Linked DNA regions of Homo sapiens: region 1 is linked to region 2. Evidence: fine-mapped QTL for protein levels in blood plasma. A gene starts in region 2. The other region holds a variant in brackets. All regions are shown on one strand. Distances are from middle to middle.

Evidence for each region. PIP is the chance, under the fine-mapping model, that this variant and not a neighbour inherited with it causes the effect. Protein levels are from antibody-based Olink assays in UK Biobank. Linkage for the fine-mapping came from a reference panel and not from the study's own genotypes, which makes the PIPs less certain.
Region 1: its variant is fine-mapped to the plasma level of the MCEMP1 protein (UK Biobank, PIP above 0.99).

What each region holds. Positions count from the first base shown.
Region 1 is chr19:7,649,585-7,659,218 of GRCh38, forward strand. No RefSeq gene overlaps it. Among named protein-coding and RNA genes, the nearest start is that of RETN, 15 kb to the right of the region's middle. RefSeq lists an enhancer at 8,568-8,687. The variant A/G (reference allele first, on the strand shown) is at 4,969.
Region 2 is chr19:7,670,895-7,680,528 of GRCh38, forward strand. It overlaps MCEMP1 (mast cell expressed membrane protein 1), which reads left to right and starts at 6,196. Exons shown (of 7, transcript NM_174918.3): 1 at 6,196-6,281; 2 at 6,743-6,832; 3 at 7,210-7,347; 4 at 7,456-7,506; 5 at 7,597-7,710; 6 at 8,030-8,089; 7 at 8,204-8,935. The coding sequence starts at 6,227. The coding sequence ends at 8,220. RefSeq lists an enhancer at 7,163-7,232.

The DNA.
Region 1 (9,634 bases), 21 kb before region 2:
CCCACGCATATGACCTCATTTTTACTTAATTATTTCTTTAAAGATTCTATCTCCAAGTATAGTCACTTTCTGAGGCAGTTGCGGGGCAGGACTTCAGCATAGACATTTGTGGAGAGGACACAGTTCAGCCCATAGCACTCAAGTGAGGTGTGAATCTCACAGCACCAATAGAACAGGAGAGGCCGGGCGAGGTAGCTTACACCTGTAATCCCAGTGCTTTGGGAGGCCTAGGTGGGAGGATCGCTTGGGCCCAGGAGTTTGAGACCAGCCTGGGCGGCATAACACGATCCTATCTCTACAAAAAAATTTTAAAATTAAATTTTTTTAAAATTTTTTTATGGGCATGGTGTCTTGCACCTGGGGTCCAGTTTACTCAGGAGACTGAGGTGGGAGATCGCTTGAGGCTAGGAGTTTAAGACCAGCCTGGGCAACATAGCAAGACCCCATCTCTACAAAAAATAAGAAAAATTAGTCAGGCACGTGATGGCACACGCCTGTAGTCCCAGCTGCTCAGGACTTTCAGGTGGAAGGATTGCTTGAGCCCGGGAGGTTGAGACTGCAATGAGCTATGATCATGCCACTGCACTCCAGCCTGGGTGGCAAGGTGACACCCTATCTCAAAAAAAAAAAAAAAAAAGAAAAAGGAAAAGAAACCTCTCTGGGGCACAGATATACAGCCAGCCACATGAGTAATCTGAGGCAAAAGGGGCTGTGGGAGCCCATATCACATCTAATCCACCCAGACTGGGGGCAATCAGGGAAGGCTTCCTAGAGGAGGCAGCATTTGCATAGAGAATGAAAATGAAGGGGGCGAAGGGAAGGGAGGGGAGGGCAGAGCAGAAGCCAAGGCCAGAGAATGCAGGAGGCCCCTGAGGAGCTGGAGGGGAGGGTACTGACCTGCAACCCAATCTGAGAACCACGTGGAGGTTCTGGTGAGGCCATGGTGAGGGTTTTGGTCCCTGCTGAGGCCATAGGACATCATAGACAGGGTCTGAGTTGGGACAGGTAGGGACCCATGTCTCATGTTGGCAGTGAAATTCTCACTGCTGGAGTGGGTGCCTGGGGAGGGGGCAGAGGGTGGGGAAGCATCCTCTTCAGAGGTAGAGCCTCTCTTACCGCCTGTGCTCAAGCGATCCTCCCACCTCAGCCTCCTGAGTAGCTGGGACCATGAGTGCACATCACCAAGCCCAGTTAATCTTTTAATTTTTTGTAGAGACTGGGTCTGGCTATGTTGCCCAGGCTGGTCTCCTGGGCTCAAGCGATCTGCCCACCTCGGCCTCCCAAAGTACTGGGATGACAGGCGTGAGCCACCGTGCCCGGCCTCTCTCCTGATTTTGAGGTCACAGATCCTTTTGAGAATTCAGGGAAATCTAAGGACACTCATCCCAGAAAAACTGCACACACAATTTGCAGGTGGGGGCTAAGGAAAATGCAGCCCCCTCTGATTCAGCAGTTCCACAATTAGGATTTATCGGAATCTCCCACCAGGGCAGGGAGATGGATGAGGAGAGTTGTGAAGGGGATGAGGTGTGGGGAAGAAAGTGGGTCGGCTGTGGACCCCTGGGGTCCGCCTGCCCTGGATATGCCTTTGCAGGGCCTCAGCAGGGACGCGTTTTAACTTACGGGAGGTGCAGGGAGTGGGAGGGAGGTGGTTTTAATGTTTAAAACTTAAGCTCAAGGTCGGGCACAGTGGCTCACGCCTGCAATCCCAGCACTTTGGGAGGGCGAGGTGGGAGGATTGCTTGAGGCCAGGAGTTTGAGGCCAGCCTGGGCAACATAGCAAATTCCTAAATATATGTATTTTTGAGACAAGGTCTCACTCTGTTGCCCAGGCTGGAGTGCAGTGGTGCGATCTCGATTCACTGTAACCTCTGCCTCCTGGGTTCAAGCGATTCTCCTGCCTCAGCCTCCCAAAAAGCTGGGATCACAGACGTGCGACACCATGCCCAGCGAATTTTTGTACTTTTAGTAGAGATGGGGTTTTGCCATGTTGGCCAGGCTGGTCTCTAACTCCTGGGCTGAAGACCTCCCACCTCAGCCTCCCAAAATGCAGGAATTAGAGGTGTGAGCCACTGTGCCCAGCCAATCTCTACAATACTCTTTTTATTTTATTTTATATTATATTATATTTATTTATTTATTTATTTTTTGGAGATGGAGTCTCGCTCCGTCGCCCAGGCTGGAGTGCAGTGGCATGATCTCAGCTCACTGCAACCTCCGCCTCCCCGGTTCAACCGATTCTTCTGTCTCAGCCTCCCGAGTAGCTGGGACTACAGGTGCGTGCCACCACGCCCAGCTAATTTTTGTATTTTTAGTAGAGACGGGGTTTCACCATGTTGGCCGGGATGGTCTCGAACTCCTGACGCCGTGATCCACCTGCCTTGGCCTCCCAAAGTGCTGGGATTACAGGAGTGAGCCACCGCGCCCGGCCAATACTCGTTTTAATAAAAATTTTAAAATGTATTCACGCCTAACTGGGTAGTTACTTGATACAATAAATGATCTTTTCTAGATTAAGAAAAAAGAAAAAAAAACATTTAAACTCAATTTCCTGGGAAGCCGCAGTTTTGCGCCGGGAGTGGCTTGTGTAGGCACGCGCTGCGAACGCCAGGGGGCGCTGCGGCGCAATTTCCCGGTTTCTTTGATCTTCCGCGTCTGTAACTGGAGATGAGGTGACCCGAATTAGACACGACGGGGAAGTAGGTCAGGGGTTATTCCGTGGTTCTCAGCGGAGACAAAAGTCTGTTGCTTAAACCGCCTCTGCCTCTGCTCCTTACTTATACCCAGGTGATGCAATGTCTTCACACTAAAGGCAAATATTGAGTCTACAAATATTTATGTGTCCCTGTGGGCGGCGGCAGCTGACAATATCGGGTCCTAACGAGCACGAAGTCAAGCTCCCTCTGCACGCTTTATGCAGATCCTCAAAACCCTCCTGTGAGGATCGCTGGAGCCTAGGAGTTCGAGGCTGCAGTGAGCTATGATTGTGCCTCTGCCCTCCAGCCTGGGTGAGAAAGCGAGAAGTTGTGTTAAAAACAAAAAAAAAGTTGGGGGGCCGGGCGCGGTGGCTCACGTCTGTAATCCCAGCACTTTGGGAGGCCGAGGCGGGCGGATCACGAGGTCAGGAGTTCAAGACCAGTCTAGCCAACATGGTGAAACCCTGTCTCTACTAAAAATACAAAAATTAGCCGGGCGTGGTGGTGGGCGCCTGTAATCCCAGCTACTCGGGAGGCTGAGGCAGGAGAATCGCTTGAAACCGGAAGGCAGAGGTTGCAGTGAGCCATCATGCCACTGCACTCCAGCCTGGGCAACAAGAGCGAAACCCTGTCTCAAAAAAAAAAAAAAAATTATCCTTTGAGATCCCTTCCCCCAAGTCCATTTCCCATCTCATGGTGAACCTGGCTGCTGTTCTTCAAACACACCACACTGTCCCTGCCCCAGAACCTTTGCACCTGCTATTCCCATCATCCGCAATGCTGTGCCTTGCAAGCTATTGTACTCCTTCCTCCTTCCCTTCCCCAGCTGGGAGAGGCCCCTGCTTTACTTCCTTGTGGTATCCCCACTTAGGGTGCTTTCTTTCTGGTTCTCTTCTGGTACCGAGGAATGATCCTCATTCTGGATTTGGCAGGTTGCTTCCTCTCTCCCCATCCCTGCCCCAATGTTTACCCTATAAATGGCTTAGAACCACATGCTCTATTGGAATAAGGGTCAGTTGCAGCCAGAATAATATCATGCTGGTAGGGCCGGGTACTTCCTGGTACATCACATCAGGGGGTCCATAACGTCATGTCACTACGATTGATGGGTGGGTTTGGGGAATGTCCCTGGTCCCCAGTAACTCTCCACATAAAGATGTTAACAGGAGCTGGGCCCAGTGGCTCACGCCTGTAGTTCCCAGCACTTTGGGAGGCCAAGGCAGGAGGATCACTTAGGCCCAGGAGTTTGAGACCAGCCTGGGCAACATAGCAAAACCCTGTCTCTACTAAAAATAAAATAAAGACCGGGCACGGTGGCTCATACCTGTAATCCCAGCACTTTGGGAGGCTGAGATGGGCGGATCACTTGAGGTCAGGAGTTCAAGACCAGCCTGGCCAACATGATGAAACCCCGTCTCTACCAAAAAACCAAAAATTAACCAGGCGTGGTGGTGCACACCTGTTATCCCAGCTACTCAGGAAGCTGAGGTAGGAGAATAACTTGAATCCAGGAGGCGGAGGTTGCAGTGAGCTGAGATCATGCCATTGCACTCCAGCCTGGGTGACAGAGTAAGACTCTGTCTCAAAAAATAAATAAATAAAATACAACAAAATAAAATAATTAGCCAGATGTGGCAGCAATTGCTTGTAGTCCCAGCTACATGGGAGGCTGAGGTGGGAAGATCACTTGAGTCCAAGAGGTTGAGGCTGCACTGAGTTATGATCTCGGCACTGCACTCCAGTTTGGGCGATAGAGTGAGACCCTGTCTCATAAAAAATAAAAATAAAAAAGGAAAGAAAAGAAAAAAAGTCATTAGCAGCCATCAATTTTGTTGTTGTTATTGTTTGTTTGTTTGTTTTTGAGATAGAGTTTCGCTCTTGTTGCCCAGGCTGGAGTGCAGTGATGCAATCTTGGCTCACTGCAATCTCCACCTCCAGGGTTCAATCAATTCTCCTGCCTCAGCCTCCCAAGAAGCTGGGACTACAAGCATGAGCCACCATGCCAGGCTAATTTTTGTATTTTTAGTAGAGACGGGGTCTCACCATGGTGGCCAAGCTGGTCTTGAACTCCTGACCTCAAATGATTCACCTGCCTCATCCTCCTAAAGTGCTGGGATTACAGGCATCAGCCACCGTGCCTGGCCCGCCATCCATTTTTGATTCATTACTCTCTTGAGGATTATGTCCAACTTTATCATTCCTGCTACTGGAATTAGCTGTGGTTCTTCTGAAAAAGGCTTTCTGCTTCCCTCCGGAACTAGCTGGTTTGTAC[A/G]GAAAGTGACAACGTGATACATTGACTTATGTATTATTTGTGGAATGCCTTGAGGCAAGCGGTTACATGAGCTCAGCAGAAGAGCCTGGAATGGGCACAGCCCTGAGGGTCACGTGTGGCTCCCTTGGAAGCATCTAGGGAGCACCCAGGAACGATTGGCTGCCATAGTAATTACTATCTAATTTATTAGATATAGTAAAAATAAATTTATTACTAATTATCACTAACGATTCTGATTACTGGGTGAGAACAATGGTGATCTCATGTATTTATGTGCATTACAGGGTGAGAGTTCTCCTTCCTGTGGCGTGCAGGAGATTCTAGAATAGAAACTCATTGAAAGAGTGAGAGGAAAACATTTGTGATCTTGAACCTGTTCCGCTTAAAAATACATGAGGGAGGCCGAGTGCGGTGGCTCACGCCTGTAATCCCAGCACTTTGGGAGGCCGAGTTGGGTGGATCACCTGAGGTCAGGAATTCGAGACCAGCCTGGCCAACACGGTGAAACCTCGTCACTACTAAAAATACAAAAATTAGCCAGGCATGGTGGCGGGCACCTGTAATCCCAGCTACTCGGGAGGCTGAGGCAGGAGAATCACTTGAACCCAGGGAGTGGAGGTTGCAGTGGGCCGAGATCATGCCACTGCACTCCAGCCTGGGTGGTACAGCAAGACTCTGTCTCAAAATAAGTAAATAGATAAATCGATTAATAAAAAATACATGAGAGGACGGGTGCAGTGGCTCATGCTGGTAATCCCAGCACTCTGGGAGGCCGAGGTGAAAGGATCATCTAAAGCTGGGAGTTTGAGACCAGCCTGGGCAATATAGCAAGACCCCTGCCTCTACAAAAAATGTAGCTGCACCTGGTGGCACACACCCAGCTACTTGGGAGGCTGAGGCAGGAAGATCACTTGAGTCTGGGAGGTGGAGGCTACAGTGAGCTGTGATTGCACCACTGCACTCCAGCCTGGGTGACAGAGCAAGACCTCATCTCCAAAAAAAACACAAATAACAAAAACGTGAGGGTCCAGAGAAATTAAAGCTGCGGGCTGGGCCAGCAGCAGTGGTGGTGGGATGGTGAAGCCAGCGACCCTAGCAGAGAAATCGGGGACAAAGGAATCAGTGCTGGAGACCTGCAGAGGAGGCGTCCTGGACCCAGACAGGAAAAGGAGGTGATGTAACTCAACGAAGCAAGGAAATCTCGTGGAAATGAGTAAGGTGACAAAGAGAGGCCACCCAGGGGGAGACCCAGACATTGAGGGTAGCTTCCCTTTTATTTTCTGTAAAGTTGCTCAAAAACCTTAAAACACAGTTGACCAACAGCTGCTGCCAAGAACATTGTGAAAAGGTTTCTGGGTAAGGAAATGGCCCTGCGAATGGGAAGGTTCCGCTCTGGTGGGATCAGAGATGAGGTGTCCAGGGCTGGGATAGGCAGGCCAGGATAGCAAAGCCCTGGCAGACAGAGGCTCCATTTTGGGTGTCCTTCATTCCCTTCTTTTTTTTTTGAGGCGGAGTCTCGCCCTGTTACCTAGGCTGGAGTGCAGTGGCGCGATCTCGGCTCGCTGCAGCCTCTGCCTCCCGGGTTCAAGTGATTCTCCTGCCTCAGCCTCCCAAGCAGCTGGCATTACAGGCATGTGCCACCACGCCCGGCTAATTTTTGTATTTTTAGCAGAGACAGGCTTTTTCCATGTTGCCTAGGCAAATCTCGAACTCCTAATCAAGCAGTCCACCCGCCCTCAGCCTCCTTCATTCACTTCTGAGATGATTCAGTTTCTGTCTCTGTTGGCAGCTGGGAAAGTTCTGAAAAAAGAATGAAGAGCAGTCCAGGCGTGGTGGCTCGCAACTGTAATCCCAGCACTTTGGGAGGCTGAGGTGGGCAGATCACCTGAGCTTGGGAGTTGGAGACCAGCCTGACCAAAAAGGTGAAACCTCACCTCTACTAAAAATACAAAAATTAGCTGGAAATGGTGGTGGATGTCTGTAATCCCAGCTACTCAGGAGGCTGAGGCAGGAGAATCGCTTGAGCCTGGGAGGCAGAGGTTGCAGTGAGCTGAGATTGTCCCACTGCCCTGCAGCTTGGGTGACAGAGTGAGACTCTGTCTCAAAAAAAAAAAAAAGAAAAAGAAAAAGTAAAGACAATGGCATCAGACAAATTCTGGCTCTGAAATCTAGGCTAGCTGGCCTGGTGACTTTTTTTTTTTTTTTTTCATAGAGATGGGGTCTTGCTATGTTGCCCAGGCCGGGTTTTGAATTTTTGGCCTCAAGCCATCCTCCTGCCTCAGCTTCCCAAAGTGCTGGGAATATAGGTGCCCCACTTTTTTTTTTTTTTTTTGAGACAGAGTCTCATTCTGTCACCCAGGCTGGAGTGCAGTGGCGCAATCTTGGCTCACTGCAAACTCCACCTCCCAGATTCAAGCGATTCTCCCACCTCAGCCTCCCGAGTAGCTGGGATTACAGGTGCCCACCATCACACCCAGCTAAGTTTTGTACTTTTGGTAGAGACAGGGTTTCACCATATTGGCCAGGTTGGCCTCGAACTCCTGACGCCAGATGATCTGCCCGCCTCGGCCTCCCAAAGTGCTAGGATTACAGACATAAGCCACCGTGCCCTGCCCTTTTTTTTTTTTTTTTAAGAGTCTCTGTCTGTCACTTAGGCTGGAGTGCAGTGGTGCAATCATAGCTCACTGCAGCCACAAACTCCCGGGCTGAAGCAATAGATCCTCCCCCTTCGGCCTCCTAAGTAGTGGCTGGGATTACACGGGCATGCCACCACACCCAGCTAATTTTTAAAAAGTTTTTGTAAAGACGGGGGTTTTCCTGTGTTGCCCAGGCTGAACTCAAACTCTTGAGCTCAACGGATCCTCCTGCCTTGGTCTCCCAAGGAGCTGGGATTATAGGCGTGAGCCACTGTGCCTGGCCCTGGTGACCTTTTGACAGTAGCCCCGCCTTCCCCAGCGTGGGTTTTGCCCTCTGTAATGTTGCGTAGGGCTGTTGCGATCACAGAAGGTGGTGGAGTGTGAGTACTTCTGGGGTACTTGCCGGAGGCTGGGGATTTGTGGAGGTGTGTGGCTCAGTTTTATTCCAGGAAACCGTGGCCAGACGGGCCTGTCAGCACCTTCCCTTTCATCTACAGTTCCTCAATTGGGGGGGTGTGAGTTGTTTCATAAGCCCCTCCCCCTCATTTCTTGCAGGAAAGTGGTAATGCAAAGAAACTTTTATTTTATCCACATCTATATTCTTTGTAACCTTTTAAAATAAGATACTTGGCCTGGCGCCTGTAACCCCAGCATTTTGGCAGGCTGAGGCAGGCAGATCACTTGAGTTCAGGAGTTCAAGACCAGCCTGGCCAACAGGGTGAAACCCCACCTCTACTAAAAATACAAAAATAAGCTGGGCACGGTGGCGCACGCCTGTAATCCCAGCACTTTTGGAGGCCAAGGCGGGCAGATCACCTGAGTTCGAGAGTTTGACACCAGCCTGACCAACGTGGAGAAACCCCCGTCTCTAATAAAAATACAAAGTTAGCCGGGCGTGGTGGCGCACGCCTGTGATCCCAGCTACTCGGGAGGCTGAGGCATGAGAATTGCTTGCACTCGGGAGGTGGAGGTTGCAGTGAGCCGAGAGGGTTAGGGTTAGGGTTCAGGAGGAAGGAAAAACCTAGGGTGTTTAGCCCCGGAAATCTCTCTTTTGATGTTCACTGCCTCGAGGTTCTTGCTACCTCTTGCTCCAAGTCACAGCCTGGCCCCAGCAGGTCATGCCAGAGCCCCCAGCCTGTCCTCTGCCAAGCGGTGGTCCTGGCAGCTGCTTAGACTCCCACTCCGAAGCTGGATCATCTGTAGATGGGAAGTGTTTGCATAAATGGGGCCAAGGAGTGCTCTCCAGCTCTTTGGTAAAGAAGCCTGACAGCCGCCAAGGCTTTTACTTTTATTTTCCATCCTTCACCCGGGAGGGGAAGCAAGTATCACTGTGTTCTGATTTGGCAGAGCCACCTGTCATTGCAACTTGTCACCAGGGCAACAAGTCACCATCTTAGTAAGGCAGCCAATGAGAAGCATGGGTTTCCTCTGGTGGTCGGTTTCACAGAACGGCAACAGTTTCTAGGCATCCGAGTGATACCAGAACTCTTTGTTCAAATAAGGCTTCAAGGACAGATGTATAGTGACAGAGAGGAGAACAAGCTGGTAGCAATTATGAATTTTCACAAGGAAAACTAGTTGTGGGGAGCAGAAAAATCCTCTCTGTGGCTTCAGGAACAAAGAGGCCATTTCCCTTGGGTCTTTAGGAAACCCCTTTTTTCCAACTATAATTTATTTTATTATTATTTTTTGAGATGGAGTTTCGCTCTTGTTGCCCAGGTTGGAGCACAATGGTGCGATCTCGGCTCACTGCAACCTCTGCCTCCCGGGTTCAAGCGATTCTCCTGTCTTAGCCTCCCGATTAGCTGGGATTACAGGCGTCTGCCACAATGTCCGGCTGATTTTTGTATTTTTAGTTGAGACAGGGTTTCAGCATGTTGGCCAGGCTGGTCTGGAACTCCTGACCTCAGGTGAACTTCCCCCCTCGGCCTCCCAAAGTGCTGGGTTACAGGCGTGAGCCACCGTGCCCAGCCCAGCGATAATTTAAATTACAAGTATTTGGCCCGGCATTAGTGGTGCATGCCTGTAAT
Region 2 (9,634 bases):
GAGCTGGAACCTGTACCCCTCACTTCCTACCTGCAAGGAGGAATCCCCAAGGCACAGGCAAAGTTGGGTTACGGAGAGTCAGGGACGCCTACCTGACGTCACGCATCATCACAAGCTCACGTTTTCACACAGGCAAGTGCAGTTGTGAGTAGTTAGTTACAACCAGATACACGCAGGGTGCTTACCCCTTCCTGGATACTAGATTATGAAAACACAGAGCAGGGGACTTGTCTGCTCCTAGATCCCCCCCAGGGTTTCGTTTCTTCCCTTCCCTTCCCCTCCCCTCCCCTCCCCTCCCCTCCCCTCCCCTCCTCTCCCCTCTTCTCTTTTCTTTCTTTCTTTCTTTTTTTTTTTTTGAGACAGGGTCTCGCTCTGTTGCCCAGGCTGGAGTGCAGTGGTGCAATCTCGGCTCACCGCAACCTCTGCCTCCTGGGTTCAAGCGATTCTCCTGCCTCAGCCTCCCACGTAGCTGGGACTACAGGCGCTCGCCACCATACCTGGCTAATTTTTGTATTTTTAGTAGAGAAGGAGTTTCACCATGTTGGCTAGGTTGGTCTTGAGCTCCTGGCCTCAAGCGATTCACCCGCCTCAGCCTCCCAAAGTGCTGGGATTACATGCATGAGCCACCGCGCCTGGCCTATTTTTTAATTTTTATTTTCGAGACAAGGTCTTACTCTGGCGCCCAGGCTGGAGTGCAGTGGCACAATCTCGGCTCACTGCAACCTCTGCCTCCTGGGTTCAAGTGATATTCCTGCCTTAGCCTCTCAAGTAGCTGAGATTACAGGTGCCCACCACCATGCCCAGCTAATTTGTATTTTTAGTAGAGAGCGGGTTTCACCATGTTGGCCAGGCTAGTCTCAAACTCCTGACCTCAGGTGATCCACCCACCTCGGCCTTCCAAAGTGCTGGGATTACAGGCATGAGCCACTGCACCCAGCGCCCCCAGGGTTTAGAATAGAGCATGGAACACAGTAGACGTTCAGTAAATGTCTGTTGATCAGTAGCCACATGTGCACTTAGATACAGCACCGACGTGCACATACTGCACATGCACACACAGCTATACACAGCCACGTGCACACACAGAGTACACAACCCACCTACCACGGCCACATGGAGACACCACATCCACAGACACACCCATGTGCCCCTAGACACTCTTGGACACAGAAAGGCACCACCCCCCCGGCCAATGCACGGAGAATCGCAGATTTGACTATGGTGGGCAGAGATGATGCAGGACACAAACACACACATGCTCCAGGCAGACTCTTGCATTTCTGACTCTAGTCCCCACTGCACCTGGATAAGTATCTGATACCCTAGTGCAGCGATCCCCAACCTTTTTGGCACCAGAGACTGTTTTCATGGAAGACAGTTGGTGTGTGTATGGGGTAGGGGGGGAGCGGGGATGGTTTCTGGGTGATTCAAGCGCATTACATTTATTATTCACTTTATTTTTATTATTATGACATTGTAATATAGAATAAAATAATTCTACAACTCACCATAATGTGGAATCGGTGGGAGCCCTGAGCTTGTGTTCCTGCAACTAGATGGTCCCAGCTGAGGGTGATGGGAGACAGCGACAGATTACCAGGCATTTGATTCTTATAAGAAGTGAGAAAGCTACATCCCTCAAATGCGCAGTTCACGATGGGATTCTTGCTCCTATGAGAATCTAATGCTGCTGCTGGTCTGACAGGAGGTGGAGCTCAGGTGGTAATGCGAATGATGGGGAGTGGCTGTAAATACAGATGAAGCTTCTCTCGCTCGCCCACCACTCACCTCCTGCTGTGAGGCCCCGTTCCCAATGCCCGGTGGCTGGGGACCCCTGTTCTAGTGGGCAAAAGCCTCAGCATCCCCCGCCTCAGCTCCCTGGGGCACAAATTCAGGTGATTCGGGGTCCAGTTCTACAGGAAGCCTGACCCAGGAGTCTTGCCATCCAGTCCCTGATTTCCCACCACAGACTTCAGAATTCCTAGCACCTAGTCTTGAAAGGGATCCCAGACTCAAATGTCACACCTGGACAACAGATGATAGAGTGAGGTTCTGGTTTGCAGGATGTTTTGGACTCTCCTCCCACTGCCACCCACCCCCTGTGATGGTCCCAGCCCCCTGTCTGATGCTGGTGGCCATGAGCAGAGATTACAACCACTTCTGGTGCCAGGGACCCCACCCAGACTCCAGCCCAGGGATTCCCTTCCCAGACCCTCTCTCCTGACTCCACAGTGGTCATGGGGGTAGGGCAGGACCACTGAGTTAGAAGCATGGCCAGGGCCAGAGAGGGTGAGTCTAGTGCCTTGTGTGTGTCCCTGCCCCTTACTGCTGTGTGTGTGTGTTGGGGGCGGGGATGCTCCATTGTCCCCAGAACTATTTGTCTCCACCCCCATCCAATAGTCCTGTATCTGAAACCTAAGAGGGCTCTCTTCAGGTTCCTCAATTCCAACATAGACATTCTCCTGCCCCAGAGTGCAGACTTGGAGGTCATATCTGCCCAGGTGATGTGGACAGGCAAACCCCCTATTAGAGCCTCAATTTCCTCAATAGCTAATGCCTAGATCCCCTGTGGTAGGCAAGATATCCTCCTCCCTCCTCCCTCCTCCCTCCCTCCTTCCTCCTCCTCATCCTTCTCCTCCTCCTCCTTCTTCTTCTTCCTTTTTGAGATGGAGTCTCACTCTGTTGTCCAGGCTGGAGTGCAGTGGCACGATCTCAGCTCACTGCAACCTCCACCTCCAGGTTCAAGTGATTCTCCTGCTTCAGCCTCCTGAGTAGTTGGGATTGCAGGCGCCCACCACCACTCCTGGCTAATTTTTGTATTTTTAGTAGACACGGGGATTTCGCCATTTTGGCCAGGCTGGTCTCAAATTCCTGACCTTAAGTGATTCACCTGCCTCGGCCTTCCAAAGTGCTGGGATTACAGGCGTGGGCCACAGAGACCAGCCAAGGCAAGATTCTTCTGCTTGCAAGTACAACAGACCCCACTTCAAACTAGCTTGGGCAAAACTAAAAGGAAGTTTCTTGTTTGTGTAACTGACAAGCCCAGGGTTAGAACAACAGGTTCAGGTATGGCTTGGAACCAGGGTCTCAAATGATGTCTCCAGGACCCAGACTTCCTCTCGGGTCTGATTTTCTCAGCACTGCCTTTGCTCTCAAGTAAATTCTTCCCTGTCACAGCTCCCATTACATCCTCCCATTGTGGCAGCCCTAGTGAGGGCTGGAAAAAAAAGAGAATGCTTTTTCCCCCGTGGTTAAACCAATAAAAATCCCAGACCAGCGTTTCATTGGCTGGATCTTGCTCAAATGCCCGCCTCTCTGCCCAATCTTAGACTCTGGTTGGCTGGGTCTGGATCATTTGTCCACTGTAAACCAATCCCTAGCTTATGGTTTGCTGGATCTAGCACACATTTTCTTTCTTAAAAGAAAATTGAGAATGTTACCCTATGAAAGGGACGGGTGCTGGTCAGGCAGCTTTGCAGATGTTTCCCACATGACATGATTGCTTGTGGGCCTCTGGTTTAGCGTGACCTTTTTCTCAAAGGAAGTCCAGAGCCTGGAGCCGCGTCTCAGCCCCACCCAAGCCCGGGAAATGTGCAACGCTGTGGCTCCACCCCCTGTGCCTGTCCATCAAGGCAGAGCCCACATCCAATTGGTCCGTCTGCTCCATTAGAAGGCGGTCCTATAGCTCAGTAACTGACTTCTTTCTAAGACCAAATGGAGCAGCTGGCATGAAGTCATTATCAAATTGATCTTTCTTGGAGACACAGGATTTGGCAATATTTTAGGAAACAGAACTTTATCCTCACCAGATCTCGACGCTCATTTCTCAACATTCAAGTTGTCTGAAATTTAACCACATATTTTTAACCAAAACATCATCACTTTCTGCACATAAGACAGTCTTATACTTGTTTTTTCTTCTTTTCTTCTTCCTTCCTTCCTTCTTTCTTCTTTCTTCTTTTTTCTTTTTTTTTTTTTTTTTTTGACGGAGTTTTGCTCTTGTTGCCCAGGCTGGAGTGCAATGGCGCGATCTCGGCTCACTGCAACCTCCACCTCCCGGGTTCAAGTGATTCTCCTGTCTCAGCCTCCCGAGTGGCTGAGATTACAGGCGCCTGCCACCACGCCCAGTTAATTTTTGCATTTTTAGTAGAGACAGGGTTTTATCATATTGGTCAGGCTGGTGTCTCTAACTCCTGACCTCAGGTGATCCGCCCGCCTCAGACTCCCAAAGTGCTGTGATTACAGGCGTGAGCCACCACACCTGGCCAGAAAAAAATAAAAATAAAAATGTATGCCTGTAATCCCAGCACTTTGGGAGACCAAGGCTGGAGGATCAGTTGAACCCAGGAGATCAAGACCAGCCTGGACGGCATATTGAGACCCTCATCTCTACAAAAAATAAGAAAAATTAGACTGGGCCACGGTGGCTGATGCTTGTAATCCCAGCACTTTGGGAGGCCAAGGCGGGTAGATCACGTGAAGTCAGGAGTTCGAGACCAGCCTGACCAACATGGGGAAACCCCGTCTCTACTAAAAATACAAAATTAGCCGGGGGTGGTGGTGCATGCCTGTAATCCCAGCTACTTGGGAGGCTGAGGCAGGAGAATGACTTGAACCTGGGATGCGGAGGTTGCAGTGAGCTGAGATAGCGTCATTGCACTCCAGCCTGGGTGACAAGCACAAAACTCCATCTCAAAAAAGGAGAAAAATTAGCCAGGTGAAGTCGTGCCCACCTGTAATTTCAGCTACTCGGGAAGCCGAGGACGAAGGATTACTTGAGCCAGGGAGGTCAAAGCTGCAGTGAGCCATGATCACGCTGCTGCACCCCGGCCTGGGCAACAGAGTGAAACCCTGTCTCAAAAAAAAATTATTAAAAAACATTTAAAGAGACAGGGTCTTGCTATGTTGCTCACGCTGGTCTCAAACTCCTGGCCTCAAATGATCCTCCTACCTCAGCCTCCTGGGTAGCTGGGACTACAGAGCGAGCCACCATACCCAGCTACTTTGTGCCTTTTGTAACCCCAGTTTTCAAGATCAGATAAACACAAAGTGAACTAAGACACCTTCTAGACAGAGTGCGGGCATGTGAACGCATGCTTGTGTCTATTTTTCTGAGTGTCACAATGCAAATAGTATGCAAATGAGTTTGTGATGTGTGTCCGTGTGCAGACCTGTGTGTGTACATGTGTGAGAGAGAGTATCTGGGTAGATAAGCAGATGGATGGATGAGAATGAGAAACCTGGAGTTTCCAGGTGCAGAGGAAACTGTTCCTCCAGGGTTCTTTTTTGAGACAGAGTTTCCCTCTTGTCACCCATTCTGGAGTGCAATGGTGTGATCTCCGCTCACTGCAGCCTCCGCCTCCCAGGTTTAAGCGATTCTCCTGCCTCAGCCTCCTGAGTAGCTAGGATTACAGGCGCTCGCCACCACGCCCAGCTAATTTTTGTATTTTTAGTAGAGACGGGGTTTCACCATGTTAGCCAGGCTGGTTTCAAACTCCTGACCTCAGATGATCCACCCACCTCAGCCTCCCAGAGTGCTGGGATTACAGGCGTGAGCCACCGCACCCAGCCTCCTCCAGGGTTGTATAAAAGCAGGGGATTTGGGGAGGGAGGGAAGGATGTGGGTCTGTCCTCAGTCCCAGATGTGGGTGTGGCGTTCCAGTGGTTAGTTCCCGTTGCCTCACATCTGTGCTTTTCCTCCACGGGGACTTGTAGAAGTAGAAGAACTTCTTGGGGGTGGAGCTGAGGGGTGGAGCTGAGGCTGGAGGGAGGAAGGTGTGGGGGGACCCAGGGGTCCTGTCTCCAAGCCTGGTTGCTCTTACGCGAAAAGTTGGGACACTGAGGTGTCACAGCTTCTCTTTTGAAATGGAGAGGAGGTAGGAGGGTGAGGTCCATCCAGGTAGACACAGACACACACAGAGACCACAGCTTCCTGTAACATTTCCGAGTGTCGAATTCCATCTCCCGGTCTAGAGGTTTTTCTTCTTGGTCCTTCCTGAGACCTCTTGGCTCCCAAGAGCCTCTTGATCGGGGCAGGAATGAGGGTGCCCCAGGGTGCGAGAGTCGTGGATCCCTGAAAAGAGGAGGCTGCTCCCCCTCTTTCTTCCCCCCACCTCCAGATTTCCTCATCTGCCCACACCTTCCGGTGGGCGGGGACGTGTATGGACAAATTTGCGGGCTGGGGACCATGGAAGTGGAGGAAATCTACAAGCACCAGGAAGTCAAGATGCAAGCACCAGCCTTCAGGGACAAGAAACAGGGGGTCTCAGCCAAGAATCAAGGTTAGGGAACTCGAGGTGGAAGGGAGGGGTTAAGAAGGAGAGATTGGGGGGCCGGGGGCTTTTGCTCATGTCTGTAATCCTAGCACTTTGGGAGGCTGAGGCGGGAGGATTGCGTGAGCCCTGGAGGTGGAGACTGGCCTGGGCAACATAGGGAGACTCTGTCTGTAAAAAATAAAAATAAAAAAAGAAGGAGAGTTCAGATGGGAGAGGTAAGGGGTCAAAGGTGGGGGCCGGGGGCTCCTTCCCCTCCAAGATGTGTGGATGTGTGTGTGGATGTGTGTGTGGTGTGATCACTCAAACTCTCACACACCCGCTCCACTTAACCAAAAAGCAGATTTTAGCTTCTCACTCCTTATCTTTCACCCCCTACAATTTATTGAGTGCAAAGGGTTGGGTAAAACAAGATCCCGGATCCACTCTCCACACCACAGAGCTCTGAGCAGATCTCCAACCCCTCCCAGGTGCCCATGACCCAGACTATGAGAATATCACCTTGGCCTTCAAAAATCAGGACCATGCAAAGGGTGGTCATTCACGACCCACGAGCCAAGGTGAGCAGACACCCACCTGCTCACATCCCATCACCTTGGGAAGGGGCAGGTGGGCGGGCAACTGCAGGGCCCCCGGGGCTGCGTGGAAGGGAGGAAGCGATGGGGAAGGAAGAGGTGACAGCTGTTGACGTGCTAATGAGGTCTGTTGATGATGACAATGTTGGGGAATGCTGGAGAGGGGGTCTGTGATGGTGACGGTGTTAGATCGCTGAGGGTGGCTGGTGGTGGCAGTGTTGTTGACGATGATGACAAGCTGCATGACCACAGCTGCTGATGGTTTTGAGAGGAGCGAGGTGTCCATGGTGTTAGAGACAGTGAGGATGGTTTGAGTGGTGGTGCTGGCCCCTCAAGGTCACTTTGCTGCCTCTTTGCTCCAGTCCCAGCCCAGTGCAGGCCGCCCTCAGACTCCACCCAGGTCCCCTGCTGGTTGTACAGAGCCATCCTGAGCCTGTACATCCTCCTGGCCCTGGCCTTTGTCCTCTGCATCATCCTGTCAGCCTTCATCATGGTGAAGAGTGAGTACTTCTTGGGAGGAGGGTGCTGGGGGGCCTAGACTTTCTCCCTTGTCCTTCTCTCTCTCTCTCCCTGGGTGCTTCAAGGATTTTCCTGCCCCTCCTGAACAGATGCTGAGATGTCCAAGGAGCTGCTGGGCTTTAAAAGGGAGCTTTGGAATGGTGAGCGGAGGGTCTGAGGGAGACCCGTGGGGTCATGGTGGGGGTCTGGAGAGGGATGGATGCACAGACACCCCTGTTTCATGCCCTCAGTCTCAAACTCCGTACAAGCATGCGAAGAGAGACAGAAGAGAGGCTGGGATTCCGTTCAGCAGAGCATCACCATGGTCAGGAGCAAGATTGATAGATTAGAGACGACATTAGCAGGTGCCTGTGTAGTCTCGCCTTCTATGGGGGTTATTTGTCACCAATGCCCGGAGCTGAGCTGGGGGCAGGGGATTCAGGGGAGGAGAAAGCCGGGGTCCTACCCTCCCAAAGCTCAAGTTGTGGAGGGGCGATGGGTGTTACCATCTGGGTTGCTCTGTGGGTATTGAAAGGCTCCTGGGAACCCCAAATCCATGGGCTCTGCTGTACCCCAGGGTGGGTGTGGGGCAGGGGGGGTGCTTCCAAGGAAGGTGGGGGCTTTGTTTGAGGCTCCACCGCAGCTTGACTTATCTGTTCCCACCCAACCCTCCCCGCCCCCTAGGCATAAAAAACATTGACACAAAGGTACAGAAAATCTTGGAGGTGCTGCAGAAAATGCCACGTAAGTTGGCGCCCCGACAGGAGGTGGAGGAGGGTGGGTGGGGCTTCAGATTTAGCCCCAGCTCCTCTCCCAGGGGCGGGATCTGCCTCACTGTGGGTCTCTCCCCATCCCCAGAGTCCTCACCTCAATAAATGAGAGGACATTGTGGCAGCCAAAGCCACAACTTGGAAGATGGGGCTGCACCTGCCAACGAAGACGGGAAATGACCCCCCCCCCCCAGCCTAGTGTGAACCTGCCCCTCGTCCCACGTATAGAAAAACCTCGAGTCATGGTGAATGAGTGTCTCGGAGTTGCTCGTGTGTGTGTACACCTGCGTGCGTGTGTGTGCGTGTGTGCGCGTGTGTTCGTGTATGTGCGTGTGTGCGTGCGCGTGTGTGTGCATTTTGCAAAGGGTGGACATTTCAGTGTATCTCCCAGAAAGGTGATGAATGAATAGGACTGAGAGTCACAGTGAATGTGGCATGCATGCCTGTGTCATGTGACATATGTGAGTCTCGGCATGTCACGGTGGGTGGCTGTGTCTGAGCACCTCCAGCAGATGTCACTCTGAGTGTGGGTGTTGGTGACATGCATTGCACGGGCCTGTCTCCCTGTTTGTGTAAACATACTAGAGTATACTGCGGCGTGTTTTCTGTCTACCCATGTCATGGTGGGGGAGATTTATCTCCGTACATGTGGGTGTCGCCATGTGTGCCCTGTCACTATCTGTGGCTGGGTGAACGGCTGTGTCATTATGAGTGTGCCGAGTTATGCCACCCTGTGTGCTCAGGGCACATGCACACAGACATTTATCTCTGCACTCACATTTTGTGACTTATGAAGATAAATAAAGTCAAGGGAAAACAGCGTCGCTATGGGACCTGTTACTGGGGCAAGGGGAGGGGTTTTGGGACCTGGGGAGAGGGAGAGTCTGCACGTGACAATGACCCCGGGGCACCAGGGTGGGCGAGACTGAGTGCCCTGCGTGAGTACCTGTGCATCTGTGAATGAGTAACTCATTCCCTGTGTCTTCCCTGTGTCCCAGAGTGGGTGCCCCTGAGCATACAACATCTCCCTGAGTGTACCTGGGACCACGGATATATACAAGCCCTAAGCGTGTACCCACGTGTGTAATTGTGCCCGTGAGTGTATCTATGCCATTGAGCATGTATCCATGAGTGTACATGACCCTAAGGTACTATGTCCACCGCTCATGCATGCACTTGATTTGTTGTTGTTGTTGTTTGTTTTTGTTTTTTTGAGACAGGGTCTCGCTCTATCACCCAGGCTGGAGGGCAGTGGTACGATCATGACTCATTGCAGCCTCGACCTCCTGGGCTCAGGCGATCCTCTTGCCTCCGCCTCCCGAGTAGATGGGATTACAGGTTCACACCACCACACCTGGCTAATTTTTTTTAAAGAAGTGGGAGTCTAGCTATGTTGTCCAGGCTGGTCTCAAACTCCTGGCCTCAAGTGATTCTCCCACCTCCGCCTCCGAAAATGCTGGGGTTACAGGCGGGAGCCACCGCGGGCCACATGGATGCACTTGAGACAATTGAACCCATC